Homo sapiens: one gene and its partners. The protein of the gene in region 1 purifies or fractionates together with the protein of each later gene. This does not show direct contact. Each region holds a gene or a part of one and is shown in the gene's direction. Other genes may lie near its edges. The genes, in order: NOLC1, E2F3, DKC1, TCOF1, RRP1B, NUP153 and NOP58.

What was found.
Region 2: the proteins of NOLC1 (region 1) and E2F3 purify together in Homo sapiens (pull-down; one large-scale study listed by IntAct). This does not show direct contact.
Region 3: the proteins of NOLC1 (region 1) and DKC1 purify together in Homo sapiens (affinity purification with western blotting; 2 studies listed by BioGRID and IntAct, with this or other methods). This does not show direct contact.
Region 4: the proteins of NOLC1 (region 1) and TCOF1 purify together in Homo sapiens (affinity purification with western blotting; 4 studies listed by BioGRID and IntAct, with this or other methods). This does not show direct contact.
Region 5: the proteins of NOLC1 (region 1) and RRP1B purify together in Homo sapiens (co-immunoprecipitation; one large-scale study listed by IntAct). This does not show direct contact.
Region 6: the proteins of NOLC1 (region 1) and NUP153 purify together in Homo sapiens (affinity purification with mass spectrometry; one large-scale study listed by BioGRID and IntAct). This does not show direct contact.
Region 7: the proteins of NOLC1 (region 1) and NOP58 fractionate together in Homo sapiens (co-fractionation; 3 studies listed by BioGRID, with this or other methods). This does not show direct contact.

What each region holds. Positions count from the first base shown.
Region 1 is NC_000010.11:102,155,220-102,159,542, forward strand, and holds part of NOLC1 (nucleolar and coiled-body phosphoprotein 1), read left to right. Parts: intron 1-1,799; coding exon 1,800-1,855; intron 1,856-1,966; coding exon of another isoform or gene 1,967-1,969; coding exon 1,970-2,109; intron 2,110-2,211; coding exon 2,212-2,336; intron 2,337-2,829; coding exon 2,830-2,995; intron 2,996-3,973; coding exon 3,974-4,089; coding exon of another isoform or gene 4,090-4,119; intron 4,120-4,213; coding exon 4,214-4,323. UniProt on the Homo sapiens protein: Nucleolar protein that acts as a regulator of RNA polymerase I by connecting RNA polymerase I with enzymes responsible for ribosomal processing and modification.
Region 2 is NC_000006.12:20,407,946-20,412,268, forward strand, and holds part of E2F3 (transcription factor E2F3), read left to right. Parts: intron 1-4,323.
Region 3 is NC_000023.11:154,772,514-154,775,999, forward strand, and holds part of DKC1 (H/ACA ribonucleoprotein complex subunit DKC1), read left to right. Parts: intron 1-617; coding exon 618-736; intron 737-2,088; coding exon 2,089-2,192; coding exon of another isoform or gene 2,193-2,196; exon of another isoform or gene 2,197-2,681; coding exon 2,682-2,760; intron 2,761-3,486.
Region 4 is NC_000005.10:150,370,390-150,374,712, forward strand, and holds part of TCOF1 (treacle protein), read left to right. Parts: intron 1-1,616; coding exon 1,617-1,847; intron 1,848-3,784; coding exon 3,785-3,997; intron 3,998-4,227; coding exon 4,228-4,323.
Region 5 is NC_000021.9:43,665,510-43,669,832, forward strand, and holds part of RRP1B (ribosomal RNA processing protein 1 homolog B), read left to right. Parts: intron 1-4,323. UniProt on the Homo sapiens protein: Positively regulates DNA damage-induced apoptosis by acting as a transcriptional coactivator of proapoptotic target genes of the transcriptional activator E2F1.
Region 6 is NC_000006.12:17,696,553-17,700,875, reverse strand, and holds part of NUP153 (nuclear pore complex protein Nup153), read left to right. Parts: intron 1-4,323. UniProt on the Homo sapiens protein: Component of the nuclear pore complex (NPC), a complex required for the trafficking across the nuclear envelope. Functions as a scaffolding element in the nuclear phase of the NPC essential for normal nucleocytoplasmic transport of proteins and mRNAs.
Region 7 is NC_000002.12:202,271,857-202,276,179, forward strand, and holds part of NOP58 (nucleolar protein 58), read left to right. Parts: intron 1-3,256; coding exon 3,257-3,333; intron 3,334-4,323. UniProt on the Homo sapiens protein: Required for the biogenesis of box C/D snoRNAs such as U3, U8 and U14 snoRNAs. Part of the small subunit (SSU) processome, first precursor of the small eukaryotic ribosomal subunit.

The sequences.
Region 1 (4,323 bases):
TCTCCATGTTGGTCAGGCTGGTCTCGAACTCCCGATCTCAGATGATCCACCCGCCTCAGCCTCACAAAGTGTTGGGATTACAGGCGTTTAGCCACCACAGGCCAAGCAACCGCAGTGCCATTGCAATCCAACCTGGGCGACCAAGAGCGAAATTCCATTTCAAAAAAAAAAAAAGAGAGAGAGAGAGAGATGGAGGTCTCACTGTCTTGCCCAGGCTGGTCTTGAACTCCTGTCCTTAAGTGATCCTCCTGCCTTGGCCTGCCAAAGTGTTAGCGTACCTGCGCCCGGCCTGAATGCATTTTTTTTTTTTTTTGAGACTTACTCTGTCGCCCAGGCTGGAGTACAATGGTGTGATACTGGCTCACTGCAACCTCAGCCTCCTGGGTTAAAGCGATTCTCCTGCCTCAGCCTCCTGAGTAGCTGGGATTACAGGTGTGCACCACCATGCCCAGTTAATTTTTTGTGTTTCTGGTAGAAATGGGGTTTCACCATGTTGGCCAGGCTGGTCTCAAACTCCTGACATCATGATCTGCCTACCTCGACCTCCCATAGTGCTGGGATTACAGCAGACCTGAGCCACCGTGCCTGGCCCTTAAATGCAGTTCTTTACATTCAATACAGTACTTACTAGTCTTGTTTCTTTCTTTTTTTTTTTGAGACAGAGTCTTGGTCTGTCGCACAGGCTGGAGTGCAGTGGCGCGATCTCAGCTTACTGCACCCTCCGCCTCTGGGGTTCAAACGATTCTTCTGCCTCAGCCTCCCGAGTACCTGGGATTACAGGCGCCTGCCACCACACCCGGCTAAGAGACAGGGTTTCTCCATGTTGGCCAGGCTGGTCTTGAACTCCTGGCCTCAGGCGATCTGCCCGCCTTGGCCTCCCAGAGTGTTGGGATTATAGGCGTGAGCCACTGCATCCCGCCTGGAGGCTTATTTCTAATGATTTGGTATTATAATCCACATTGCAGGAAAAACCTTCTTGTATTAGTGTTTGTACCCTCAAGTAATGGATAAGATTACATTCTTAGATAGTACATTGCTAGAGTAAAGAGAGAGCCTTTTTTTTGGCAGAGGGGTAGAGATGGGGGTCTTGCTATGTTGCTTAGGCTGGTCTTGAACTCCTGGCATCCAGTGATCCTCCTGTCTCAGCTTCCCAAAGTGCTGAGATAACATGAGATAACAGGCATAAGCCACTGTGCCCAGTCAAAAGTGATTTTTTTTTTTTTTTGAAATGGAGTCTTGCTCTTGTTGCTCAGGCTGGAGTGCAGTGGCGCGATCTCCTAGGTTCAAGTGATTCTCCTGCTTCAGCCTTCTAGGTTCAAGCAATTCTCCTGCTTCAGCCTCCCAAGTAGCTGGGACTACAGACATCTGCCATCATGCTGGGCTAATTTTTGTTTTAGTAGAGATGGGGTTTCACCATGTTGGCCAGGCTGGTCTTGAACTCCTGACCTCTTGATCTGCCTGCCTCGGCCTCCCAAAGTGCTGGGATTACAAGCATGAGCCACCGTGACTGGCTGATTTTTTGTTTTGTTTTGTTTTAGGACTTTGATCAATATAGATTGGCAGGCAGGGGGTTAGATGGTTAGATGGTGCCGCAAACATAGGAGTAGCCCGTTTTTTACATCAGAAATTGGGAAATCCACAAATAGAATATTTTTCTCCTGATTTATGCACGTAGCAAAAGTTTTATGAAGATGTAACATTTATACCAAATTTAGTAATTATGTATGTAACAGGCCACATTTAATGAAAGCATAACCAGGATAAAATAATTTCCTTACCCAGCTCTTTTTCTTCTACAGACACAGCAGGATGCCAATGCCTCTTCCCTCTTAGACATCTATAGCTTCTGGCTCAAGTAAGCCTTTCCTGTTCCATTTTGGCTATTTTCTCCCCCAAGATAGGCTGGGCTGTGTTTCTTGGTTTGGGAAGATTCCAGTCCCCTAGAAATTGGTCCAATCTACCTCAGCAGGTCTGCCAAGGTCCCAGAGCGAAAGTTACAGGCAAATGGACCAGTGGCTAAGAAAGCTAAGAAGAAGGCCTCATCCAGTGACAGTGAGGACAGCAGCGAGGAGGAGGAGGAAGTTCAAGGGCCTCCAGCAAAGAAGGCTGGTAAGGCAGAGTAGCAGGTGGGCTTGGTGGTGCCAGGAAAAGAATTTACAGCCTGCTTGTTTCACATGGCTGATTCTTACTGGGACCTGTGTGTTTGTTCAGCTGTACCTGCCAAGCGAGTCGGTCTGCCTCCTGGGAAGGCTGCAGCCAAAGCATCAGAGAGTAGCAGCAGTGAAGAGTCCAGTGATGATGATGATGAGGAGGACCAAAAGAAACAGCCTGTCCAGGTTTGCAGCTTTGGGAAGAAAAAGGGGTTTAAGGATTAGAAAGGAAGAAACCTAAAATCTTGGCCTCTAGCTTGTAACCAAGGGGTGATGGCGGCAATACAATAGGTGATTATGAGGAAGAAAATCTGGGGATTTTCAGGGAGCTGATAAAAGTATGAGGTCTGGAAGGGATGTGTGAGGTTGAGGTCAGGCTCCGAATCTAGAGGAAATTAAACCCATTCTGCTTGAGGAGTTTGGGTTCTTCTGGGACACTATTCAGGGCTCCAAGAATAAGAGAGAGTGTTTTCCTGGGAGCTTTGGCAGGATAAGGCAGGAACAGGGCCAGTGTATCAAGTGGCTGAACTTTGTTGTTTTTTGCCCTTTCCGTATCCTGTCCTTAGCTTTCTTTTGCTCTTACTGCTCCATTAGGCCCCTAAAAATAAAAGGAACCTAGGATGCCCTTTGGGTACCCGGAAGCTTTTGCTGATTTCTCTCCTTGTGTCTTTTCTAACAGAAGGGAGTTAAGCCCCAAGCCAAGGCAGCCAAAGCTCCTCCTAAGAAGGCCAAGAGCTCTGATTCTGATTCTGACTCAAGCTCCGAGGATGAGCCACCAAAGAACCAGAAGCCAAAGATAACACCTGTGACAGTTAAAGCTCAGACTAAAGCCCCTCCCAAACCAGGTACTGTTTCTGTTCCCAAGAGGCTGGGCTGGGGACCAGATTGCTCTGGGGACTGGAGTTAAAATTGCCGATTTGGCACAGGGGTGAAATGGTACTGTTTGTTGAACTGGAGGTGTTGATTACTGGTCTTTTAATTTTAAAGGTTTTACTAATAAATAACAAGATTTCATAGGAGCTAGTAAATAGAGAAAGTTATTGCAGCAAGAAAAAATGTGTATTTTTTTTAATGGTATCCATTTGGTATTTTGTGACATTTCATAGACATTTTATGTTTTCACACATCCCATTCCACTGTAATCACTTAAATATCTATTTGTTGTGCTTTTCACTGCCATTTTTACTCTTGTATGTTCATTCTATGAGACAAATGAGAATTTTTCTTTTTTTCTGTAACTTGTGATGAGGGTTAGGTTATTTCTCTGAATGGAGGTTGAAGTGAAAGATTTTAGAGGGCGTATTGAGATTATTTATGTCATCTTTTCTAAGAAGACAGTTTTATTCCTGCCATGGGATAGGAAAGGTATCCTTTGATGTGGTAAACCATGGCTGGCATTCTCCTCGATGGCTGCTCTAAAGTTGAAAGAATTGGTGGACTCCTGGCCAGGCACAGTGGCTCACACCTATAATCCCAGCACTTTGGGAGGCTGAGGCGGGCGGATTGCTTGAGGTCAGGAGTTCAAGACCAGCCTGGCCAACATGGCGAAACCCTGTGTCTACTAAAAATATAAAAATTAGCTGGGCATGGTGGTGGGCACCTGTAATCCCAGCTACTCCAGAGGCTGAGGCGGGAGAGTTGCCTGAACCACTGCACACTAGCCTGTGCAACAGAGCCAGAGCCAGACTCCGTCTCCAAAAAAAAAAAAAAAAAAAAAAAAAAAAATGGTGGACTCCTAAGTTCTCTGCTCATAGGAAGGAGGTTTTTCATGGTCCTGACTTGCCCTAATACTCCTTACTCTTTCTTTTTCTTGGGTATTCCAGCTCGAGCAGCACCTAAAATAGCCAATGGTAAAGCAGCCAGTAGCAGCAGTAGCAGCAGCAGCAGCAGTAGCAGTGATGACTCAGAGGAGGAGAAGGCAGCAGCCACCCCCAAGAAGGTCTGGACCATAACTTCTGTCAGGGCAGAGGTGACCAGGGTGTGATGTGTGTGTGTCTTCCTTCCCTGGCAGGATTGGTTGGGTCAGCATTTTCCTGTGGTAATCAATTTTCTTTCTAATGCAGACTGTACCTAAAAAGCAAGTTGTGGCCAAGGCCCCAGTGAAAGCAGCTACCACCCCTACCCGGAAGAGTTCTAGCAGTGAGGATTCCTCCAGTGACGAGGAAGAGGAGCA
Region 2 (4,323 bases), on another chromosome or scaffold:
GGTGAAAGCAAGGTAAAGAAGGTAGATTTCACAATTTTGTTTTTTAAAAAGGGGAATCTTCCCTGAATTCTTTGAGGTACTAAGTACGTGGTTTAATGCATATTTTCATTCTTGTTAGCAGTTTAAAAATAATGTTTCAGAGACTGTATTCACGATTGCTAAAAAGCATTTTTTCTACTAATCATTGTTCATGGGACTTAACAATGGAAGATAACTGGGAAAGCAGTAAATATAGGAAACCACTAATAGTGTCTCCTTCTTCCTACCCTGACCCTCTCTTTGGCTTCAGAAAGTGACGAGGAAAATGTATCTTTCACAAAGAAAAGTTATACCACAGAAGGTACTAAAAAGCAACAACTGCCTTTGGGGACAGGAAACTTACAGAGTGGGGATTATTATAGAGGGATAACATACCGAGTTTCTATTTCAATAAGAGGGAAATTGGTTTATATTCTGTTCACACTTGTTTCAAACCCTCTCCTCTAAAAGCAATGTGTTTTTGGAATTCAAGGAATGTACGTTCTTTCCCCAACCTTAACTGGGGGTCAGTCTTATGGCCACCATATTTGTCTACAATATAACTTTTAAAAAATATAATTTTTGCCCTCAAATACTCTCCTATCCAATGCAATGTAACTTTGAAGGAGAAGTGATGAAGGCCACTGGTTGCCAGATTGTATCACACAGCCAGATGCACTTTGCTTTGATGAAGAATCTAAGTGATGCAGGCCCCCACTTAGCTTTGTAAACTAAGGCAGGGGTTTATGTCAGCTCGAGGTAGAAAGCAGTGAGAATTGGCAGCTGATGGAATAGAAAGGGGACAAAAAGAATAAAAAATAATTGACTTTAGTCTGCTTTCCATTACCGTAGCCCAACTCTCTGGGGCCATTTGTGTGGTCTAGACAACATTCTTAGAACTTGACAGTCCCTGAGAACGATATTCTAGGTTGGCATGGGCAATAGTTGGCATTTACACTGGTCTTGGAATCATAACATTTGAGAAGTGTAAGGCACAAGAGTCCTCATCTGCCCAATCCCCTTCATGTTGCAGGTGAGGAAATTCAGGCCCAGTGCTGTTAAATTACTTGCCCAAGGTCACAGGTCTTTGCTAGTGGCAAAGCCAAAACCGAAACGGGAGACTCTTGAATTCTTAGAAGCCTCATTCACCAAGAGAAGGTTAACTGTGTCTCATGAACCCTATATGGGAAAATTGGGGTGTGTAGGACACATTTTAGATTTCCTTCAGGAGTGGTTACCTTTTTTAAAAATGCGCACATAAAGAAGTGTCCTTTAAACAGTTGGCTGTGGGGGTAATGACTTATTCCCAAAGATACAAAATAAGCAAGGCTACTTTGGATGTTAAATGAAAGGGAATTATTTAAAAAAGGAAAGAATGACTCTTCAAAACGTGATAGTAATATTTTTAAAGATTTATTTGATATTCGCAAATTTGTCTTCTGTGGTTATATCAATTCTGTTGCTCAAAAAGTGACACATGCTTCATAGAGAATAGAATCTAAAAGGATTTTTGAGACTTTCTTGGGGAGAAGGACACACAGTGCCCCTCTGGTAGTAACGGAGTTTTGTCCTGGGCCACCAACATCCTGAGTGACTGTCATGCTTTCAGAGGTCCCCAGCCCTTGCCCAGTAACATTGAACAAGGTGTTCTTCCTCTGTGGTTAGCTCCAAGATTTCTGGTTTAGCAAAGTGGCTAATCAGTTAACTCTTTAAGAGGAAATTGTCATTCCTTTAGCCAACGCTAATTTCCTTAAAATGCCTTCTTTTCCTTTTTGGAACTGAGAAAGCTTAAAAATAGAATTGCTTCAAGCCCTGAGGCCTGAAAGTGAAACATAATCTAACGTGGCTGTAGTGCACTGACTCGTTAGGGGCAGCGATATATGGCTTATCTGTAATCCACAAACCAGAAAGGTGCCCAGTGTAGATACGGTCTAACAGCCAGTGAGCATTAAGTACCAACTGATGAGAGTAGTAATCAGTGAAGCTGATTTCCTCTGGAAAGTTTTTTGGCGAGTAGAGTTTGTCTTAGAGAGTGGAGGATTTGAATGCCTCTTGACTTTCTGCTGAGGAGAGCTTCTGCCTGCTCTAGTTTTTATGATCCTGAAGGGTGGTAGCTCTGGACTCTGAGAATGATGGGCAGTGAACTCAGGGTCTGTATATTTCGTTCCACTCTGCTCTTCCCCATTTCTGATGCTTTGGGGGCTCCATTTCTGATACATAACCAGAGCAGCATCCCTGAGGCCCACACTATCTCCTGTGTGCCTTTCTGCATCTGGCAGTCCCTTGGAGAGAAGGAGGCTCATGTGTTTATAACCTGCACCCTGTCCTAAAAGGCATAGTGAGGGGCAGCTGAGTATAAGGTCAGGCCACTTAGCCTGGAGCCAGAGTGCCTGTGTTCTTGTTCTGGCTCTGCTCACTAGCCCTGTGACTTTGGGCAAGAAACTTGGCCTCTATGTTTTCATTTCCTCATCTGTAAATTGGGAGGAATGATAGTACCTACCTTATGGGGTTAGGAAGTTGCAATGAGTTCTTATTTGTAAAGTGCTTAGACCAGTGTCTGGCACGTAGGAAGGATTATGTGTTAAGTAGAAACATGGTATAATTGCCCTTCCTTCCACAGGCATCTCATGGGCTGTCCTTTTGTGATCCATTTTCTTGGTTTGTTTTTGTTTTGAGACCAAGTCTTGTTCCGTTGCCCAGGCTGAAATGCAATGGTGCAATCTTGGCTCACCGCAACCTCTGCCTCCTGGGTTCAGCCGATTCTCCTGCCTCAGCCTCCCCCGTAACTGGGATTACAGGTGTGCGCCACCACGCCCAGCTAATTTTATTTGTATTTTTAGTAGGGACGGGGTTTCACCATGTTGGTCAGGCTGGTCTCGAACTCCTGACCTCAGGTGATCTGCCCGCCTCGGCCTCACAACGTGCTGGGATTGTAGGCATGAGCCACTGTTCCTGGCCTGATCTATTTTCTTAACTAGCCCTTAGTGTTCATTTCACCCCATTGCACCTCTCTAAAAATGGTGATGATGGGAAGGAGAAGTAAACCGTGGAATGGCTCTCGCCTAATGCAGTCTTTAGGGTCTAGGGTCTTTGTATTTCTTTATAAGCTGCCCATTGACTTGGGAAAAAGAACTGAAGAATAAGCTTCTTGTAGTAGTGCTATCAGTAGTGATAGTGTCATGAATAAAACCTTTATTTCTGTGATTAAATGTATTAATAAAGTGACACTACTAGCATGAATGACACTATTAACATAATTTCAATCCTGTACAGTAAACCATGGCTTAAGACTGAATGGCAAGAATCAGGGTGTCTGAGCTGCTGGGCCCTGCCAGACTCGGAGCCCCTGCCAGTGTGTGTATATCAAGGCAGGGCGGGGGGTTGTCTTGCTCTCCAGAGGCAATGGAACCTGCCTCTAGGCCTCCCTTTTCCCTTCTCATCTCCTCACCCCTCCTTTTTTATGTTAGATCTATTCCTACCCCTTCCCCTTCGCCTTGCCCTCTGCCTGGCTCTTAGAAGGAAGCAGACTTGCCACCTTCAGTGGCTGCTTCCCGGACTTACCAAATTAATTACCACCTTTTCCTGCCATCAAGGGATGGTGAAATCTTGCCTTTTCGGTCTTGCTTCCCATTCCTCTGCACTCGGCTGCTGCGACAGTGTGGTGCTGCAGGCACCGCAGATTTCCCTCTGGTGTGTTTGCTCGTAGCTTCTCCCTCTCCACCTTACTCCTTTTGTTGCCCTCCTCCCACTGGCCCATTGAGGCCCACATCAAGGGAAGGCGTAGGCACAGCCTCCCCCAGTTTCCCAGGGGCTTGGGCCTCTCCCTTCCCTTGGGTTACTGCTTCTTTCCTGTAACACCTCATGGTCTGCCTCGTAGCCTAATCTTGCATGTTCATGACTTACTCCTCCTCCAAACCTGTAAGCTCCAAGAAATCGGTCTGGCTTGCTTTTTCATCATGTGGTCCCTGCAGTGCCCACTACACTATAGGCTCAGCTACCTGAGAAGAGGCATTTTCATTAGACACCTTCCATGTGCTTGGTACCCCATTAGTCCTATTGGGGATACAAAAGAAGTATGAGGTGTGATCCGCCCACTCTTGAGTTTACAGTCTGTTGAGGAGACAAGCTTTAAACACAAGTTGATCTGCAAGCAAGACTAAACAGGCGGTAGGGAGAAAACAAGACTCATCTAGTCCTCAGTTGTGTGGTGTCGACAGAAAGTGCCAGAGGAACAGGTGAGAGTCACCAGACTCCAGCTGGGCCGTGAGATGGGGAGGCCACGGTTGTCAATCTTGGAGTACATTA
Region 3 (3,486 bases), on another chromosome or scaffold:
GTAATGTGATTCCTCCAGGTTTGTTCTTTTTGCTTAGGATAGCTTTGGCTATTTTGAGTCTTTTGTGGTTCCATGTAAAGTACCAGTGTTTTTTAACTTGTGAAAGCTTAGCTACTGTTGGATTGTCTCTTAAGACTTTAAATGCTCTGCGCACCCTCTTAGTGAATGAACCTTAGAGCTATTCATTTAATGGGTCTAATTTGTACCAGAAGTAAGCATGTCATCAGGATTCCTTAGCTCTGTGAGCAGGCAAGGCAGCCACGGCTTATGGACAGCAGCAGAAAAGGAATCCTTAAAACTTCAAAGGTTCTGTGGCCCCAAAGGGAGTGTGCATGCCGTTCTTATAGACGTCTTGAGCTGCAAGCCTGTTATGTGTATCGTTAGGTGCTTTGGTTAGGTGTTTTTTAACTTCAGAAGTTTAACGTCATTTCAAAGGCCTCCTTCTCATAATGGAGTATTTCCTCCATATGCACATCCTGAGCAAAGGTAACCCCAATTAAAGTAGTAGCTCAGAGTTTTAAAAGTTTTAAAGTGGCATACAACAGTAGAATTGGGGCTCATCAATTATCAATTCTTTCACCCTTCAAATAATTCTTTTCTTTATTCAATGCCTGTAGCTATTGCATTAATGACCACAGCGGTCATCTCTACCTGCGACCATGGTATAGTAGCCAAGATCAAGAGAGTGATCATGGAGAGAGACACTTACCCTCGGAAGTGGGGTTTAGGTCCAAAGGTAAGTGGTACTGGGTTGCGTGCCCTGCCAGGTTCTTTTTTTTTTTTTTTTTTTTTTAAATTTATTTTTTTATTGATAATTCTTGGGTGTTTCTCACAGAGGGGGATTTGGCAGGGTCATGGGACAATAGTGGAGGGAAGGTCAGCAGATAAACAAGTGAACAAAGGTCTCTGGTTTTCCTAGGCAGAGGACCCTGCGGCCTTCCGCAGTGTCTGTGTCCCTGATTACTTGAGATTAGGGAGTGGTGATGACTCTTAAGGAGCATGCTGCCTTCAAGCATCTGTTTAACAAAGCACATCTTGCACCGCCCTTAATCCATTTAACCCTGAGTGGACACAGCACATGTTTCAGAGAGCACAGGGTTGGGGGTAAGGTCACAGATCAACAGGATCCCAAGGCAGAAGAGTTTTTCTTAGTGCAGAACAAAATGAAAAGTCTCCCATGTCTACTTCTCTCCACACAGACACGGCAACCATCCGATTTCTCAATCTTTTCCCCACCTTTCCCGCCTTTCTATTCCACAAAACCGCCATTGCCATCCTGGCCCGTTCTCAATGAGCTGTTGGGCACACCTCCCAGACGGGGTGGCGGCCGGGCAGAGGGGCTCCTCACTTCCCAGTAGGGGCGGCCGGGCAGAGGCGCCCCTCACCTCCCGGACGGGGCGGCTGGCCGGGCGGGGGGGCTGACCCCCCCCCACCTCCCTCCCGGATGGGGCGGCTCCTGCCAGGTTCTTTTGTTTGGCATTGTTGAATACTTGGGCAGCTCTTGGTGTGTTTCACCACCACAGCCTTGTATTGTGCTGGGCTCTGGGTTGTCGATGAGTGGAAACAGGCCCTGTCTTGGGCCTTAGAGATTTCAGTCTAATGAGGGGAAACAGTTGGGCATTACTCACGTAATCACACAGTGGAATGGCGAATTTCATGCACGTTAGTGGCTACCAAGGAGTGCAGAGAGGTGTCTGTCACCTGGAGTGTCCACAGTGGTCAAGGAGTCTGGTCAAGGGATTGTCTGTTAAGCCACACCGGTGTGAAGAGTGGGTTAGGTGTTGGTGAAGTGAAGAGGGGAGGGGAGAGTTCAGGGCATTGGGAGCAAGCAGCATGTGCAAAGGCAAAAAAGTAGAGTGGCTGCGGTGGGGACGTTATGTCTGCAGAGGCTCTCACTAATAAGCTTTGTGATCTTCAACAAGTCCTGTGTGTGTTGGAGTTAGTGGGCAAATTCTGAATGCTCTGGAGAGGAGTTTGAGGCCCTGCTGAGAATACACCAGGGAGGAACCTTGTTCTATTCTTTGTAGTCACCATGCCCGCTTCCAGCATTGACACCATTCTAATGTTGACACCTTGATGTTCCACCAGGCAAGTCAGAAGAAGCTGATGATCAAGCAGGGCCTTCTGGACAAGCATGGGAAGCCCACAGACAGCACACCTGCCACCTGGAAGCAGGAGTATGTTGACTACAGGTGAGGGCAGGATGTTTCAGAGCCGGGGTGGGTAGAGACGGCACACTTGCTGCCTTGATGCAGGAGTATGTCAACAACAGGTGAGGATGGGAAGGTAGAGCCCACTTGCCATCTGGACGCAGGAGTACATGGACAACAGGTGAGGAACAGGTGAGCATGGAGGTTGTAGAGCCCAGGGGAGGGGGAGTCACTTGGTTTGGGGCAAACTTGCTAAATGCAGGACCACAGGAACCAGCTCTTCAGCTCCCGTGAGATTTTGGCTGCCCAGGCCAGTTAGGGGTGTGGGCCTGCACGGCAGACAGTTATCCCTTTCTAGTCTGGCTCGTGGGACTCTAGAGGGAGTCAGTCTGCAACAGTAAGTGGTGAGTTCTTCTGTCCAGCGTCAGTATTTTGATGGTGGCTTTAGACTTGCCAGATAACACTACATAACATCAGTACTGCCCTGGAAAGCCATTCAGTGAATTTGACCTATTGCTACCTCTTTTTCAGTGAGTCTGCCAAAAAAGAGGTGGTTGCTGAAGTGGTAAAAGCCCCGCAGGTAGTTGCCGAAGCAGCAAAAACTGCGAAGGTGAGTGGCATGCTGTCCTCAGTTTGGAATGTGCTTAGGGAGATAATCCTAAGAGGCACTGGCATTCGTCTTACTTTGTGACTGTCCGCAGTCCAGCCATATACGCTAGCATCAGAGGTGCAGCGCATACACAGGTAATGCTGCCTCATACCCTGGGGTGCTTGTTTGGGCTCTGCAGGCTCCTCTGATTTGTATTCTCTGTCCTATCTGCTGGGAGGAGGAATGTGGGCTCAGGAATCAGATGGGCCTCGACTCCTACCTCAGCTATGGCAGCAACACAGTGATGGAATGGGTGGTGGTGTGTGTGTCAATTCTGGCCCCCGCCCTGGGTCAAATGGTAGGACAGATGTGTTGAAATCAGAGGCCATGGCTGTTGGACATTCGAGGCCATACAAAATTCAGCAGAGAGCAGAATTGCATCTTAACCTGGCACCACCCAGTGTTGAAAGAGTCAGTCAAGCATGGGTTGGCAACTCCACCCCATGGAGCTGCTGGCATTAGAGCACAGAATGACAGGTCTGCACTCAGAAACCGGGGGCGGTACTGAGTATCCTGCACAGGCTGTGTGGGAGGAGCTTCTGACTTGTCAGATGTGAATTCCTGCTTTGCCTGCTTTCTGTGAGAGGTCCTTGCAGTCATGAGAGAAACAGCTCCTCCGGGCCTTTCCACCCCAAGCCCCGTGCTGCTGCTGTGCTCCTTCTCTTGTGCCTGCCTCAAGGCTTCTTG
Region 4 (4,323 bases), on another chromosome or scaffold:
GTGTCACCCAAGCTGGAGTGCAGTAGCGCGATCTTGGCTAGCTGCAACTTCCACCTCCCGGGTTCAAGCGATTGTCGTGCCTCAGCCTCCCAAGTAGCTGGGATTACAGGTGCACGCCACCACGCCTGGCTAATTTTTGTATTTTTTGTGGAGACAGGGTTTCACCATGTTGGCCAGGCTAGTCTCGAACTCCTGACCTCAAGTGGTCCATGTGCCTTGGCCTCCCAAAGTGCTGGGATTACAGGCATGAGCCGCCACGCCTGGCCAAAACCTTGATCTTTAAATGAGAGGGAGAAACCAGGCACGGTGGCTCGCACCTGTAAGTGCAGCACTCTGGGAGGCCAAGGCAGGAGGATCATTTGAGGCCAGAAGTTTGAACCCAGCCTGAGCAACATAGTGAAACCCTGTCTCTACAAGATGTTATTTTTTAAAAAAACAAATAAATTATGGGGAAAGTGACACAAGATGAAGTCCTAGGTAGACAGGGGCCAGATCTTCTGTCTGACCTTGAGGACCACCATAAGGAATTTGGGTTTTATTCTAGGGGCTGTGAGAAGCCATGCCAGCAAGGAGAGATGGCCTGATTTGCATTTAATAAGATTGCTGGCTGCAGCCTGGGTTGGAGGGCAGTGCAGAATAAAAGCAGTAAGACCATGTAGGAGACTATTGGAGTAATACTGATACTGGCATAAGAGGCTGGGGGCTGGGAGACCAAGGTGTCCACAGTTGGAAAGATGTTTTCAAGGGAAAACCAGCACAAGTCAGGGATGAACTGATCTGGTGCCCAGGGAACTTCTCACTTTACTGTGCTGCCTGGCCCAGTAACCCTGTGAAGGTTGAAAGCTCACCCCCATCTACCCCAGGCCTTACCAAGGGCTGCCCTCCACCTTCCGTCCTCACCCTTGCGCCCTAGATACCACCAGCTGTAAGGACATCCCTGGCTTCTGTCACCCCAGGCCTTGCCAAAGGGAAGAAGACCACTCCCAGCCCTCCATAAACACACAACCTCAATGGGCTGAGGCTGTGCAGAGCTCCAGTAGCAGACGCCCCAGAAACCCAGGGCCGCAAGGGGTCTGATGGATCTCAGAGGTAGAAGTAGGGCACTGACTGCCTGGGAAATGTCTGAATTGTGGAAGTGTAGGAAAGAGCTCACAGAGGGAAGGAATTTGCCCAAGGTGTGGCAAGCCAGTGGCAGAGGTGGTGTTCACATCCTGAACTCCTGGCCCTCAGGAGGGCTGCTGTGATCAGATACTTGAGTTTAAGGGGCAGACAGGATGCGCTCTCCTGATTGAGATGCAAGCCCTTCTCTCAGGCCAAGCCCGGTGTGTGCCAGGTGGGAGATGAACGTAATGGTTTTGAGATCTGTTCCAAAGTCAGACAGTCCAGGGTTCCAGTGGGGCTCTGTCCCTTCATATTGATCATGAGTGATTTTACCTCTTTAAGCCTTGTGTACTTTTCTGGAAAATGGATCTAAAGCTAATAGCCGTCTCAGGGAGTTGCTTAAAAATCCAGTGACATTAGGAAAGAGCTTTATCAACTGCTGAAGCCCCTAATACAGAACCTTAGGGGGAAACAGTAATTATTATTCATTTTCTAATTCCATCCTCTTGTTCCAGGGGAAACCCTCAGTAAAACCAGCCCAGGTCAAAGCCTCATCAGTTTCTACTAAGGAGTCTCCAGCAAGAAAGGCGGCCCCAGCCCCTGGGAAGGTGGGGGATGTGACACCCCAGGTCAAAGGAGGGGCCCTGCCCCCAGCCAAGAGGGCCAAGAAGCCAGAAGAGGAGTCAGAGAGTAGTGAGGAGGGATCTGAAAGTGAGGAGGAGGCCCCTGCAGGGACACGAAGCCAGGTGAGGCCTGGAGGAGGGCTGCCCCTTGGAGGACCTGCGGGTCCCCCAGCAGCCTGAGCACTCTGCCATGAGCACCTCTGCCACTGGAGTTGGGGAGAGGGAGGACTATGGTGTGAAGTTGAAGAGCAAGAACAGCCTGCTTCCCACAGGGGAGTCTTGCACTCCACTTTGTCTGTGACCAACTTTACCTCAGTTTCTCTGCCTAGTAAATGGGCCGCTGTCCTCGTCCCAGCCAGTCCTGCTGTGAGGGACTTGAGAAGTTTTGATTGCCTAATCCTCTGACTTCTCAGGACAAACCAGACCCTGAGCAGGCAAACACTACGTTAGCTAAAGGGAATCCAGTTCCCTTCCCCATCTGCTGGGAGTGGGCAGGGCTGCAGCCCCAAGGCCCTGGGTGTATCCCAAGGGCAAGACAGGGGGGCTGGAAAGCAATGGAAGTCAGAGCAGGAAGGAGGAAGAGTGAGGGTCACCCACCCAGCCCCAGGCCTGGGGCAGGACAAGGCGGGGGCATGCAGTAGATAAGCAGATCCCCTGCGTTAGCTGCTGGTAAATGGTAAAGAGGAAGTGGGGGACATAGGAATGGCAACTTGAAGCAGAGTGCTCTGGGCTGGCCTTGGGAGAAGGCGTCTCAGTAAAGACCAGAAGGAGGAAGCACTCTTAGGAAGGTCATTCCAGGCAGGGGCTCAGCAAGTGTCAAGGCCCTGAGGTAGAAGTAGGACTACGAATTGTGACAAATTGTTGTTCCCACCCCATCTACAGGGAACTTCTACGCCTCGGCTGTCTATTTTGCAGTGTCTGGGGGCTACACAGTGTTGGATGGGCATCCACTTTGAGAAGGAACACAAATGTGAATTTTTTTTTTGAGACAGAGTCTTGCTCTGTTGCCCAAGCTGGAGTGCAGTAGCGGCAATCATAGCTCACTGCAGCCTCACTCCTGAGTAGCTAGGAATACAGGCACACACCACCACACCCAGCTTGTGTGTGTGTGTGTGTGTGTGTATAGACAGGGTTTCACTGTGTTTCACAAGCTGTGGACTCAAGCAGTCCTCCCACCTTGGCCTCCCAAAGTGCCGTGATTACAGATATGAGCCACCGCACCTGGCCATAAATGTGAACTTTTATGTAAAATCTGCTTTCTCCATGTTGGCTCAAAAATTTAAAAAGGAGCTAGCCAAGCAAGACCTGTGTGGAGCAGCCTGCACTTTCTGCATGAGAAGCTTCTTAGAAGATCAGAGCTGCTGTTTTCTAGGGTTGTTGGCCCAGGGCTGAACACCCAGGGCCTTCCAGGGAAGACAGGGCCTGCAGCCACCCTGCCAAAGCCCCAAGACAGTGCAGAGCCCCACCGAGGAGTTAGTGAAGAGGGGGCCAGGTGTGCAAACCTTGCCCCATGAGGCTGAGGGTGGGCTTCCAGGGGTCCTGCTGCTGTCCATGTGCAGAAAGTCCAGTGAGGGCCTCCCTCAGTCCCTTCCCCACTTTCAGACTGCCTCTTCATTCCTTCCCTTCCCTGGGCCTTTGCACACCCCCTCCCCACAGCCCAGTCTGATGATGCTCCCGATAAGCCAGTGCCTGTGCCTCCAGAGCTCTCTGGCCAGTGGGAGCCCAGCAGAGGACAGGCTCTAACTACCCAGTGTGCTGGGGCACCAGGGGGAACCATGTTAAGGAAGTGGTGTCTCTTAGGGAGCCAGAGACAGAGGAGGCAGTGGCTAAGTGAAATGGAACAGGGGGCATGGAGGCTCCAGGAGTGAGAGTGTGTGAAGCTGATCGATTTTTGAGAAACCAGGAGGCCAGTGTGGCCAAAGTATCAGTCAAGGTGGGGAGTGGGGAGGGAAGCAGGGGAGGTCTTAGGAGCCTCATTAAGGCCTCTGGACTTTATCCTAAAGGCATCACCAGAGAGTTTTCACAAGCAGGAGAGCAAGCTGCCCTTTCTTTTTCACCAGGTAAAGGCCTCTGAAAAAATTCTCCAGGTCAGAGCTGCCTCAGCCCCTGCCAAGGGGACCCCTGGGAAAGGGGCTACCCCAGCACCCCCTGGGAAGGCAGGGGCTGTAGCCTCCCAGACCAAGGCAGGGAAGCCAGAGGAGGACTCAGAGAGCAGCAGCGAGGAGTCATCTGACAGTGAGGAGGAGACGCCAGCTGCCAAGGCCCTGCTTCAGGTGAGGCCTGAGGAGGGAGACTCCATGCAGCCAGGCCCGTCCCCAGAAGGCCTTCTCAGGACTTGTTCTCCCACTCTGGGCCAGAGCCCCGGGCGTGCCTCAGACCCCAGCCCCTTACTCCCCTCTCACTGTGTGGCATCATTTGCCCTATCTGGTCTTCTGTACGTGGTGTCCTGTGTCTCCTCACACGTCCATCCTCTGGGCTGTCTCCCCTTGTCTTGTTTCTCCAGGCGAAGGCCTCAGGAAAAACCTCTCAGGTCGGAGCTGCCTCAGCCCCTGCCAAGGAGTCCCCCAGGAAAGGAGCTGCCCCAGCGCCCCCTGGGAAG
Region 5 (4,323 bases), on another chromosome or scaffold:
CAGAACATCTACGCCATGCTAGTTTTATTTTATTTTATTTATTTGTTTATTTTTTGAGATGGAGTCTTGCTCTGTCGCTCAGGCTGGAGTGCAGTGGTGCGATCTTGGCTCACTGAAACCTCCGCCTCCTGGGTTCCAGCGGAACCCTTGGTGCCATTCTCAGGATTAAATGAGCGCGCACTCCTAGTTCCTGTGGGATCTGACTGTTAAAGAGCCTGGCACCTTCCTCCTCCCTTGCTATGTGACATGACAACTCCCCTTCCCCTCCAGCCAAGATGGGACACTCCCTGAGGTCCTCACCAGAAGCAGATGCTGGAGCCATGCTTGTACAGCCTGCAGAGCCTCGAGCCAAATAAACCTCTTAGCGTCAGGTGTTCCTTTATAGCAGCGCAACAGACTAAGACAGTGATGCAACTGGAAGTGCAGGAGCATTAACCAGCTTAAACCCAAAGAGAGGATTTGAAGGACCCAGGTTACTGCATGGGGTCAGGCTCAGGGCACTCCTTGTCCTTGCTGGGCAGCTACATTGGGATTTCCCTCCAAGGCTCTCCACCTTCAAGCAGGGTGTGGAGGGACTCTGTGGTCTGGGTGGGGCTTACCCCACGTGGAGAGGCGGCGGCTTCTGCCAATTCAGCAGAATTCCCTTGGCCACAGGACAGGTTCAAGAAAAGCCAAGTGACCCTCTGCAGGTAAAAATCTTCTTGCTCAGTCCTTAGGAGTTTCTAGCTCTCTCCTTACTGGACTTGAAGAGAACACACAGTTTGTACCTGCTCCCAGCCACCTTGTAACACAGGTGGAGCCTGTCTGAGAATGGAGACAATCTTTGGGGCAGCAGAGGTTGCAGTGGAGAAAAACAAGGTGCTGGCACCAGCAGTTGAGCTCCTGCACAAAGTTGTGCTTCACTTTCCCCCTTAAAACTAGCATGGCTGCCAGGCCTGGTGGCTCACGCCTGTAATCCCAGCACTATGGGAGGCCAAGGTGGGGGGATCATGTGGTCAAGAGACTGAGACCATCCTGGCCAACATGGCGAAACCCCGTCTCTATTAAAAACTACAAAACTTAGCTGGGTGCGGTGGCAGGTGCGTGTAATCCCAGCTACGTGGGAGGCTGAGGCAGGAGAATCGCTTGAACCTGGGCAGCAGAGGTTGCAGTGAGCCGAGATTGCACCACTGCACTCCAGCCTGGGCGACAGAGTGAAACTGTCTCCAAAAAAAAAAAAAAAAAATCCTTAATAGCATGAAATATCCAATCTGTTTAGTTTTTCTCATCAAATGTTTTTTATGAGCAATCCAAATGAGGACCACCCACTGCATTTGGTTAATATGTCTGCCAAGACGCTCTTAAAATCTAACAGTTCTTACCCATCTTTTTCTGTACAGTTTATTTGTTGGGGACATAGGTCATATGCCTTGTAGAGTTTCACATATTTGGGGTTTGTTGACTGCATCCTGTTGTCTCACTTACCATGTTCCTCTGTCCCCTGTATTTCCTATAAACTAATATTAATAGTTAAGATTTGACACAGTTGGGTGTTTTTTTTTTTGACACTTACTTTTGTAAGAATACTTCATAGGTTGGTGCAGCGTTCTTCCTGTTGGCATCACCTCTGGCATCTGATGCGTGATTATTGCCTGTGCATGTTAATGATCGGTCGGTGGGTTTGGGTGTTGATGGTCTGACACATCCACTTTCAAGTTTCTTAATATCGTTTGTTTGTTTGTTTGTTTGTTTGTTTGAGAGACAGAGTTGCTCTGTTGCCCAGGTTGGAGTGCAGTGGCACGATTATAGCTTACTGCAGCCTCAAATTCCTGGGCTCAGGTCATCCTCCCACTTCAGCCACCTGAGTACTTGGGACTACAGGCACATGCCACCATGCTCTGCCAATTTTTTGGTTTTGTTGTTGGTGTGTGTGTGTGTGTGTTTAAGACAGGGTCTTGCTCTGTCGCCCAAGCTCCATGGAGTACAATGTTGTAGAGATTGGGTTTTGCTGTGTTGCCCAGGCTGGTCTCAAACTCCTGAGCTCAAGTGAGCCGCCACGCCTGGGTGATATCTTTTCATCTAATGTTTTAGCAGCTATTTATGATCCTTGCCCAAAGCCTTCAATTCACTGGGGATATATGTGGTCTTTGAACATGATTAAATATAAGTGCAGGTCACTGTGGCCAAGAAAAAAAAAGTTACTGCAATCATGACCGCAGTTGGCTCAGCTCTAGTGGGGTTTATTACTCATACCATACTTACATTATCCACGTGAGGATCCCCAGGCATGACTTGTTCATAACAAGAGGGCAAGAGAACCAGTTGGTACATCTTCTCTCCAACTGTGAAAGGGAATATACTTTAATAAACTAGTTTTATGTTAGTTCCTGATATCCTGGTTTTACATGGAAAACTATCATAAAAGAATCAAAATGCAGGCCGGGTGTGGTGGCTCATGCCAGTATTCCCAGCACTTTGGGAGGCCGAGGCCAGCAGATCACCTGAGGTCAGGAGTTCCGGACCAGCCTGGCCAACATGGTGAAACCTTGTCTCCACTAAAAATACAAAAAATTAGCCAGGCGTGGTGGCACGCGCCTATAATCCCAGCTACTCTTGAGGCTGAGGCAGGAGAATCGCTTGAACCCAGGAGGCAGAGGTTGCAGTGAGCCTAGATTGTGCCACTGCACTCCAGCCTGGGCAACAGAGCAAGACTCTATCTCAAAAAAAAAAAAAAGAATCAAAATGTACCATTATAAAATTGTTGATGGGAGAAAGACCCTTAGCAAAGTGGAAATCAATACCTGTAAATTAAGGTTAACGCACTCTGAATACACTAAACAAACTTTGGTCCATTAAAAGGTCTTTTTGTCACTTTTTTTTTTTTTTTTAAGAGACGGACTCTCGCTCTGTCGCCCAGGCTGGAGTGCAGTGGCGCAATCTCAGCTCACTGCAAAGTGCAAACTCCACCTCCTGGGTTCACACCATTCTACTGCCTCAGCCTCTGGAGTAGCTGGGACTATAGGCGCCCGCCACCATACCCGGCTAATTTTTTTTGTATTTTTAGTAGAGACGGGGTTTCACTGTGTTAGTGAGGATGGTCTTGATCGTCTGACCCCGTGATCCGCCCACCTCAGCCTCCCAAAGTGCTGAGATTACAGGCATGAGCCACCGCGTCTGGCCCTTTTTGTCACTTTTTAAGCATCTTTTGGAGTATTAAGATCACATTGATTCTAAATATTTGTTTGCATTCATCTAGTTTATAGCACTTTGTTGCTCCAAAAGATTTCTCCTAGGATCTCCTAGTAAAATCCTAATAAAGACCATTTGTAACACACATCAAGACTTGAGGATTCTGTTTGTGTTCTAATTTCATGTATCCATAGGCTCGGAAACTCCAAGACTGTACACCTACCTTATCATTTTGTGATTCTTTATGTCAGTCAGCAAATACTTTATGACACCTGGGGTCTACTCAGGAGATTTAAGGCTGAACGAGACTGGTCACTCAATCATAGATCATGAAGGCAGAGGTAGAGCCCTGAGTAGCTAGAGTCAGAACAAAGCCAACCCTGGTGATGCTGCAGTAAATGATCACCGTTACAGGGAGGGTGATTGACAAAGCCAACCTGGTGATGCCACAGTAAATGATCACCGTTGCAGGGAGGGTGATTGACAAAGCCAACCTGGTGATGCCACAGTAAATGATCACCGTTGCAGGGAGGGTGATTGACAAAGCCAACCTGGTGATGCCACAGTAAATGATCACCGTTACAGGGAGGGTGACTGGGAGGCAGCCACTTTTGACCTTATACTAGGATCCTTAAAAGGTAATTTTTGCAAAAATATTCCAAAGCAGCGTCAGTGTCCCCAGGCCCTTTCCTAGGCCTTTGACTTTCAGATGTACTGTTTGGAGCTCCTGTGTCCTCAGCCTGGCTGGTTTTCTGTTCCTCGGAAGTGGGGCTGCCCGTTGCTGGGGCTTCATATGACTTGAGCAGGTCCCCCGCATCTCTTGTAAGATTTGCAGTTTTACTTCACAAGACCAGCGAAAATGTCAGTGTGCAGGATGGCTGCACGTGGTGGGCGGGGAGGGCGTTGATGAGGAGCCGATTTCATAAGTGGCCACTTTGTTCATGAATTTTGTGTTGTGATGACATTTGCTTCCTCACGCTGAGGCCGGGCCACCACTGCCACCCTACCCTGTAGCTGATAAAGCTGCAGGTACAGTAGTAATTTATTTGTGTTTCTTTTATAACAATAAGGAAATGTTTGCTTCAATTTTTTAAAAAGACGTGCAAACGAAAGAGAATTAAAATGTATGTGATACTTCACCACTTTCTAAACTTG
Region 6 (4,323 bases), on another chromosome or scaffold:
CTGAAAGGGACACAGATAGTGAATTTTTAGGCTTTGCTGTGGTAAATTGTCCTTTGTTTTGTTTTTAAAAGTCCTTTAGCAAATGTAAAAACCATTCTTAGCTTGTATGAAAAAAGACCAAGGTCTGAATTTGGCCCAGCCCACAGGTCATTGTTTGCTATACCATGGTTTATATGATAGTATTGTTTTTATTTGTTTTGGTAGCTTCTTTGTGATACTCTGTCCCAAATAAGTATGTCCTGCCTGGTATCTGATAGCTGGAGTGTTCTCAGATTTGAAAAGGAGGGATATTTAGAGGTCGAATATTTAAATCATTCCAGAAGTCACCAAGTTTTTAACTTTTATTTTATCCTTATTTGCTTTATCCTAGATGCTTAATATAATCAGTGGGAATAGAAATGGAAACATTGATAGGATTGGATAGTTGATAGGATAGTTGTTAGGAAAACATTGTAGTGTAATGGAGTCAGCCTGAGTTTGGATCCCTGTTCTGCCTGGACTTGGACAAGTTAATTTACTCATCTGTAAAGTGAAAATTGTTGTGGAGGTTAAATGGGACAAGTGAAGATTTTAGAACAGGACCTGGCATATGTATATAGGTAAGGAGTTATTAAAAATTGAGTCCTTATTATATATATGCAATTGAAATTTGAAATTAAATAGAACTGTTTGATTTAGGATCTTTTTTTTTGTGGGAGACCACAGTTTTATTATTACTCAAATTAGTCTCCTGATTTAGGGTCTTCATATTGTCTCTGAATTTTCCTGCTTCTTATCAGAAGTTTTGTTTCCTTTAGGTGACTAAATTCAATACTTGCATGTATTAAATTGTTTAATGCAAAGTAGGTGTTTTGTTTGTGATGAGAGGTTTTGTGTGGTATTATATTAATTTACTTAATTTTTCTAATAAGTGACAAAAAAGTCCACTTGCTGTATCCATTTTCTGGGAAGTCCCTGACAAGGCAGATATCTTAGTTTGAAGTAAAATAAAAATTGTAGTCTGATGTCACTAATTAAAACTGTTTACTTTTCTTTTTTTTTGAGACAGAATCTAGCTCTGTCACCCAGGCTGGAGTGCCATGCTGTGATCTTGGCTCACTGCAGTCTCTGCCTCCCAGGCTCAAGGGATTCTCCTGCTTCAGCCTCCTGAGTAACTGGGGTTACAGGTGTGTGCCACCACGCCTGGCTATTTTTGTATTTTTAGTAGACACGGGGTTTCACCATGTTGGTGTGGTGGTCTCAAACTTCTGACCTCAAGTGATCTGCCCTCCTCGGCTTCCCAAAGTGCTGGGATTACAGGCGTGAGCCACCTTGCCCAGCCAAAACCATTTTCATTAGGCACAGAGTATTGCAAAGATTGTAATTATCTTGTATTTTCTTTTTTTTTTTTTTTTGAGACGAGTCTCGCCCTGTCACCCAGGCTGAAGTGCAATGGTGCGATTTCGGCTCACTGCAACCTCCGCCTGCCAGGTTCAAGCAATTCTCCTGCCTCAGCCTCTGGAGTAGCACGCACCATTATTCCTGGCTAAGTTTTTATATCTTTAGTAGGGACGGGGTTTCACCATGTTGGCCAGGCTGGTCTTGAAGTCCTGACCTTGTGATCTGCCTGCCTCAGATTCCCAAAGTGTTGGGATTACAGGCTTGAGCCACCACGCCCAGCTAGCTTGTATTTAAAAAAAAAAAAAATTATTTGTAGCTATTTAGCTTATCTTCATGGTTGTAATATATTTTTAAAAGATTCTTCTGTGTTGGGAAGTTTGGTTTCAAGTCTTGCTGACACATACCATTTACTGTCAGAAACAGGATGATAGGATGCCTTTTCTATCTATAGATATTTCAGTTTGCTTGATTTTGCATATCTTTTTCTTAGTGTGATTTAAGAAACAAACTCTTACTCCCAATTTTCAAACATGTTACCTGAGAAAAAGTGTGATAGTATCTTGTAGGTAACTTTTAGTGAGTTTAACTACTGTGAGCTTTTATTGAGTTTTCTTTTTTTTTTTTTAAGACAGTGTCACTCTGTTGCCCAGGCTGGAGTGCAATGGCACGATCTTGGCTCACTGCAACCTCCGCCCCGCTCTGGGATTCAAGTGATTCTCCTGCTTCAGGCTCCCAGCTCTTTTTTTTTTTTTTTTTTTGAGACAGAGTCTTGCTCTGTCGCCCAAGCTGGAGTGTAGTGGCGCGATCTCGGCTCACTGCAAGCTCTGCCTCCCGGGTTCACGCCATTCTCCTGCCTCAGCCTCCCAAGTAGCTGGGACTACAGGTGCCCACCACCACGCCCCGCTAATTTTTTGTATTCTTAGTAGAGATGGGGTTTCACCATGTTAGCCGGGATGGTCTCAATCTCCTGACCTTGTGATCCGCCCACCTCGGCCTCCCAAAGTGCTGGGGTTACAGGCGTGAGCCACCACGCCCGGCTGCTCCCAGCTAATTTTTGTATTTTTTCGGTAGAGACAGGGTTTCGCCATATTCCCCAGGCTGGTCTCCAACTCCTGGACTGAAGCAGAACCCCTGCCTTGGCCTCCAAAGCACTGAGATTACAGGCGTGAGCCACGGTGCTTGGACCTGAATCTAGTTTCAATAATCTGAATTTAACATCCAAATCTAAGACATTATTGGTTGTATTTTATAAGCCTATGCCATTCAGCAGCGAAGTTTACCCTATCCAATCAGTCCAAGTCCTCTAGCCATTTAAAGTACTTTTCTAGCTGAAGAATTAAAAACCTGCTCCCTGGGAGAATAAGATTCCAGAACCTTAAAACTGATGATGGACTGCATTTGATATTTATAGTTAAAGATCCAGTGAAACTATTTGAGAAAGGAGATTTTATAATCTGAACACTGCTAAGGATAATGTGAAGAAAAGGGAGTTGAACAGAACTGAAGTCAAGAAAACTAGTAGGAAGAAAAGAGCTTTGTATAGAAGGAAGGAAGGATATATAGGAATGACAAGGAGTTGGCCATACTGAAAAGATGCCTCTGGTTATTCCTGTGAAAAGGTTTATAAGAAAAGAATGTCGTTAATTACAAGTGAGTTCTGAGTTAGTGTTATAGAATAGCCTTCCCCCACCCCAGCTGTTTCTGAGTTAGTGTTATAGAATAGCCTTCCCCCACCCCAGCTGTTTCTGAGTTAGTGTTATAGAGTAGCCTGCCCCCACCCCAGCTGCCTTTCATTAATCCTTTTTTTTGAGATGGAGTCTCGCTCAGTCGCCCAGGCTGGAGTGCAGTGATGTGATCTCGGCTCACTGCAACCTCTGCCTCCTGGGTTCAAGCAATTCTCCCTCCCTCAGCCTCTCAAGTAGCTGGGATTACAGGTGCCTGCCACCACGCCTGGCTAATTTTTGCATTTTTTAATGGAGACAGGGTTTCGCCATGTTGGCCAGGCTTGTCTTGAACTCCTGACCTCAGGTGACCTGTCTGCCTCAGCCTCCCAAAGTGCTGGGATTACAGGCATGAGCCACTGCGCCCAGCTCATTAATCCTTCAACTCAGGTTAAATATAATTTGAAAAGCTAATGTATTCACAATACCTTATACGTTGAATGTTCCTGATATGTATGTAGTATTGAATTCTAATCCCCAGATTGAATTTTTAATTAGTCTAAATCTCAGTGGCATTTTTGACATGTTTTGCCAAATGAAGAACCCTTCTTTCTTGGAGAGAGAATACCCAGTGGATTTAGCCAGTTCACATTCTAAAATTCACTCCTTTAATCCTTGAACTTAAATTTATTATTTATGATTATGAAGTGTGGACTTTGCTTTAGGGCCACAGAGTATTTTTTAAGATTAATTTTTTTTTTTTTGAGACGGAGTCTTGCTCTGTAGCCCAGGCTGGAGTGCAGTGGTGTGATCTGGGCTCACTGCAACCTCCGTCTCCCAGGTTCAAGTGATTCTCCTGCCTCAGCCTCCTGGGTAGCTGGGATTACAGGCGGACACCACCTGCCAGCTAATTTTTGTAGTTTTAGTAGAAATGGTATTTCACCATGTTGGTCAGGCTGGTCTCAAACTCCTGACCTCAAGTGATCTGCCCACCTCGGCCTCCCAATGTGCTGGGATTACAGACGTAAGCTACTGCACCTGGCTGTTTTTTAAGATTTTATTTATTTGTTTTATTTTTTTGAGATGGAGTCTTGCTCTGTGGCCCAGGTTGGAGTGCAGTGGCGCCATCTTGGCTCACTGCAAGCTCCGCCTGCCGGGTTCACGCCATTCTCCTGCCTCAGCCTCCCGAGGAGCTGGGACTACAGGCATCCACCACCACACCCAGCTAATTTTTTATATTTTTAATAGAGACGGGGTTTCACCGTGTTAGCCAGGATGGTCT
Region 7 (4,323 bases), on another chromosome or scaffold:
TCGCTTGAGGCCAGGAGTTTGAAGCTGTAGTGACATAGGACCACACCACTCCACTCCAGCCTGGACAACAAAGCGAGACCCTGTCTCTGGAAAAACAACACAGCTAGTAAATTTAAAACTATACTTTGCTAATAAGCATTATTTATCAAGTCCATAATATAGCACATCTACACATTAAGACGCAGTTCTAGTCTGGTTATATATTATTTTCAGTAAGAGAAACACAATGTTGCAAGTTGTATAAAACTTAGATGAGTGACAAGATGATTTTAGGGGTTTGTTCTGATGTATAATTTTTTTTTTTTTTTTTTTTTTGAGACGGAGTCTTGCTGTCGCCCAGGCTGGAGTGCAGTGGCGCGATCTCAGCTCACTGCAGGCTCCGCCCCCTGGGGTTCACGCCATTCTGTTGCCTCAGCCTCCCGAGTAGCTGGAACTACAGGCGCCTTCCACCTCGCCCAGCTAATTTTTTTGTATTTTTAGTTAGAGGCGGGGTTTCACCGTGTTAGCTAGGATGGTCTCGATCTCCTGACCTCGTGATTCGCCCGCCTCAGCCTCCCAGAGTGCTGGGATTACAGGCATGAGCCACCGTGCCCAGCCTGTATAAATTTAATCACACATGGTTGAATTAGATATGTTGGTAAAAATAACCCAAACTAGAAAAACTTAGAGTCACACAAAGCAATAAACAACTACAAAGCCTAGAGTTGGTATTAACAATTTATAAACTAATAGCTCTAACTTTGTATATCATGAAGTTTTAGAATCCAGAGACACCTCACCAAGTCTCATGACTATACTGAAAACACTGATTAAAATTTTTTGAAATTGTTCAGAGAATGCAGCTAACCATAACTGAAGTTCACTATTTTTAAGAGGACATGTATCAAATAGGGGATATGACTCATGAGTAAAATTCACATTTTTTCTAGCTGAAAAGCAAGTATATTTGAAGATAACATTTGGGTAACAAAATTGCCATATTTAAAAGATACTTTCGGCCTGGCGGGGTGGCTCACGCCTGTAATCCCAACACTTTGGGAGGCCGAGGTGGGTGCATCATGAGGTCAGGAGATCGAGACTATCCTGGCTAACACGGTGAAACCCCATCTCTACTAAAAATACAAAAAATTAGCCAGGTGTGGTGGCAGGCGCCTGTAGTCCTGGAGGCTGAGGCAGGAGAATGACGTGAACCCAGGAGGTGGAGCTTGCAGTGAGCCGAGATCCTGCCATTGCACTCCAGCCTGGGCGACAGAGCGAGACTCCGTCTCAATAAATAAATAAATTAATTAAAAAATACTATCACCATTCTAAAACTGAAGTTAAAATAACAAAGGAAATGTGATAAAATCAGGGCAATTCATGAGCACACAAAGGTCTTCAAAGACTATGTTATGTCAGCCAAAACCATTACTATGACAAATAAAACCATTGTGTTCCCAACTGCAACATCTTGAAGAAAACATTGCTAATAAAGACCATCTAAATAAGAAAGTTAGAGATATTGCTACATTTTCTGTATTACATTTGTCTCAAAGTTTTTATTTGTCTCAAATTTTTAATCATTTCTTTTCAGCCAGGGTAATGATAAATATTTGTATACAGAAATCCATTTTAAGTTTTATCATTTTAAGATAATTTCCATTTCTAAGTAGAAATAGTATACAACTATTACCATTGCAATCTTTAGCATTGTTGTTACAACAGTACTAGTTTTAAAACAAGTCTTTATATTTTATAGATACAAACTGAAATATTAACAGGTAAAAATTAAATGTCTAGGTCTTGCTTCAAAACAATACAAGGCGGCTGGGTGTGTTGGCTCACGCCTGTAATCCCAACGCTTTGGGAGGCCGAGGCAGGTGGATCACCTGATGTCAGGAGTTCAAGACCAGCCTGGCCAACTTGGTGAAACCCAGTCTCTACTAAAAATACAAAAACTAGTTGGGTGTTGTGGTGCGTGCCTGTAATCCCAGCTATTCAGGAGACTGAGGCAGGAGAATCGCTTGAACCCGGGAGGCGGAGGCTGCAGTGTGCCGAGATTGCGCCACTGCACTCCAGCCTGGCGACAGAGTGAGACTCCATCTCAGAAAAAAAAAAAAAAAGCCATTTACTGTGATTCCTAAAAGTATGCATGAACATGTGTTGCACAGACATTCAAAGTCTTGGAGAATATATACCTAAATGTTGATAAGTATATTGTTGATTAAAGTACCCTATGTTTCTTTTGCATTTAAAAAATTTCTCACATCTAGATGTGTCTCACAATTGACGATAGTTTTAGAGAAATCCATAATACTTTCATGTTAGGATGATCATAGCAGTAAATAACGAATATAATCTATTGAAAGTAGACAAAAGTTTTTTTTGTTTTTTGTTTTATTTTTTTGAGATGGAGTTTTTTGCTCTTGTTGCCCAGGTTGGAGTGCAGTCGCGCAATCTCGGCTCACTGCAACCTCTGCCTCCGGGTTCAAGCAATTCTCCTGCCTCAGCCTCCCGAGTGGCGGGGATTACAGGCATGTGCCACCACGCCCAGCTAATTTTGTATTTTTTTTTTTTTTTTTTTTTTGTAGAGACGGGGTTTCTCCATGTTGATCAGGCTGGTCTTGAACTCCTGACCTCAGGTGATCCGCCTGCCTCAGCCTCCCAAAGTGCTGGGATTACAGATGTGAGCCACCATGCTTGGCGCAAATTAAAGTTTTTAATGATTACAATACTTTACTGTAAAGGGATTAATGGCTCTTTTAAAAGAAAGGTTCTCGGCCAGGTGCAGTGGTGCACACCTGTAATCCCAGCTACTCAGGAGGCCGAGGCACTAGAATCTCATAAACCCAGGAGGTGAAGGTTGCAGTGAGCCAGGATTGCTCCACTGCACTCCAGGCTGGGCTACAGAGCGAGACTCCATCTCAAAAAAATAAAAAGAAAGGTTCCCTGCCCTACCCCCTAGGACCCCATAGCTCCAGCTACGGCCCAAGGCTGGGGCAGGAATATCTCTTGAGGCCAGGTAGATTCTAGACTGAATAGCCACTGTACTACAGCTGACTGGACTAGATCTGAATTCCATTTAGCTGTTAAATGGGCAATTCGAACTAGTAATTTGACCAAAATTACATGCAGGGTAAGAAAACTAGTTCATTATCTTAGTGAAAGAAATAGCTTCTACACCTTCATTTTACATGTAAAATTGTATTTGAAGAATGCAGCTGTATATGCCTCACCTGTACCATTTAAATAAAACTATTTAAACATTTTATTACAGGTTCTAAATGAGAAGAAACTTCAAGAGGTTGATAGTTTATGGAAAGAATTTGAAACTCCAGAGAAAGCAAACAAAATGTAAGTACTCTTGAAATCAATAATTTAGCAGTTAACATTTAGGGCTTGTTTTATTTTTTACATTTTTCCCTGATTTATATAATGTTACATTCGTAGTTTTCTGTTTTGAAATCTGTTTCAGGAATAATTTTGGTATGAACCTAATTATTACAAATGTTTTACTTGGAATATAGGCCATCTCAATTAATTTGAAGGCAGTAGTCTCCCCCTTACCCACAGGGATTATGTTCCAGAAGACCCTGTGGATACTTTAAACCTCGGATAGTACCAAATGTGATTGCTGTCAGTAGGAACACATTTGTCTTCGTGTCTTCCACACACAAATGTAATACCTTTTTTATCTTAACTAAGCACTTACCGCACACAGGGGTTGTAACCTGCTTTTTGAGTTTTGCAACATCAAAACTAGCATGAACTACTTTTTCTTTCATCACAATTTCATGGAAGATTCATTCTTAGTGTAGATGTTAAATCTTTGGTTTTTTTGTTTGTTTTTTGAGACAGAGTCTTGTTCTGTCACCTAGGCTGGAGTACAATGGCGCAATCTCTGCTCACTGCAACCTCCGCCTCCTGGGTTCAAGCTATTCTTCTGCCTCAGTCCCCCAAGTAGTTGGGATTACAGGTGCCCACCACCATGCCCAGCTAATTTTTGTATTTTTAGTAGAGACAGGGTTTCGCCATGTTGGTCAGGCAGGTCTCAAACTCCTGACCTCAGGCGATCCGCCTGCCTCGGCCTCACAAAGTGCTGGGAGTACAGGCGTGAGCCACCACACCTGGCCTAAATCTTCGTATTTGTATGTATATTTAAGGGACCACACTAGTATGTTCCCTTACCAGATAAGAAAACCTTGCTTAAGATGACACTGTTGCCTGGTGTGGTGGCTCATGTCTGTAATCCTAGTACTTTGGGATACCAAGGTGGGTGGATCATTTGAGGTCAGGAGCTCGAGACCAGCCTGGCCAACATGGTGAAACCCCCTCTCTCCTAAA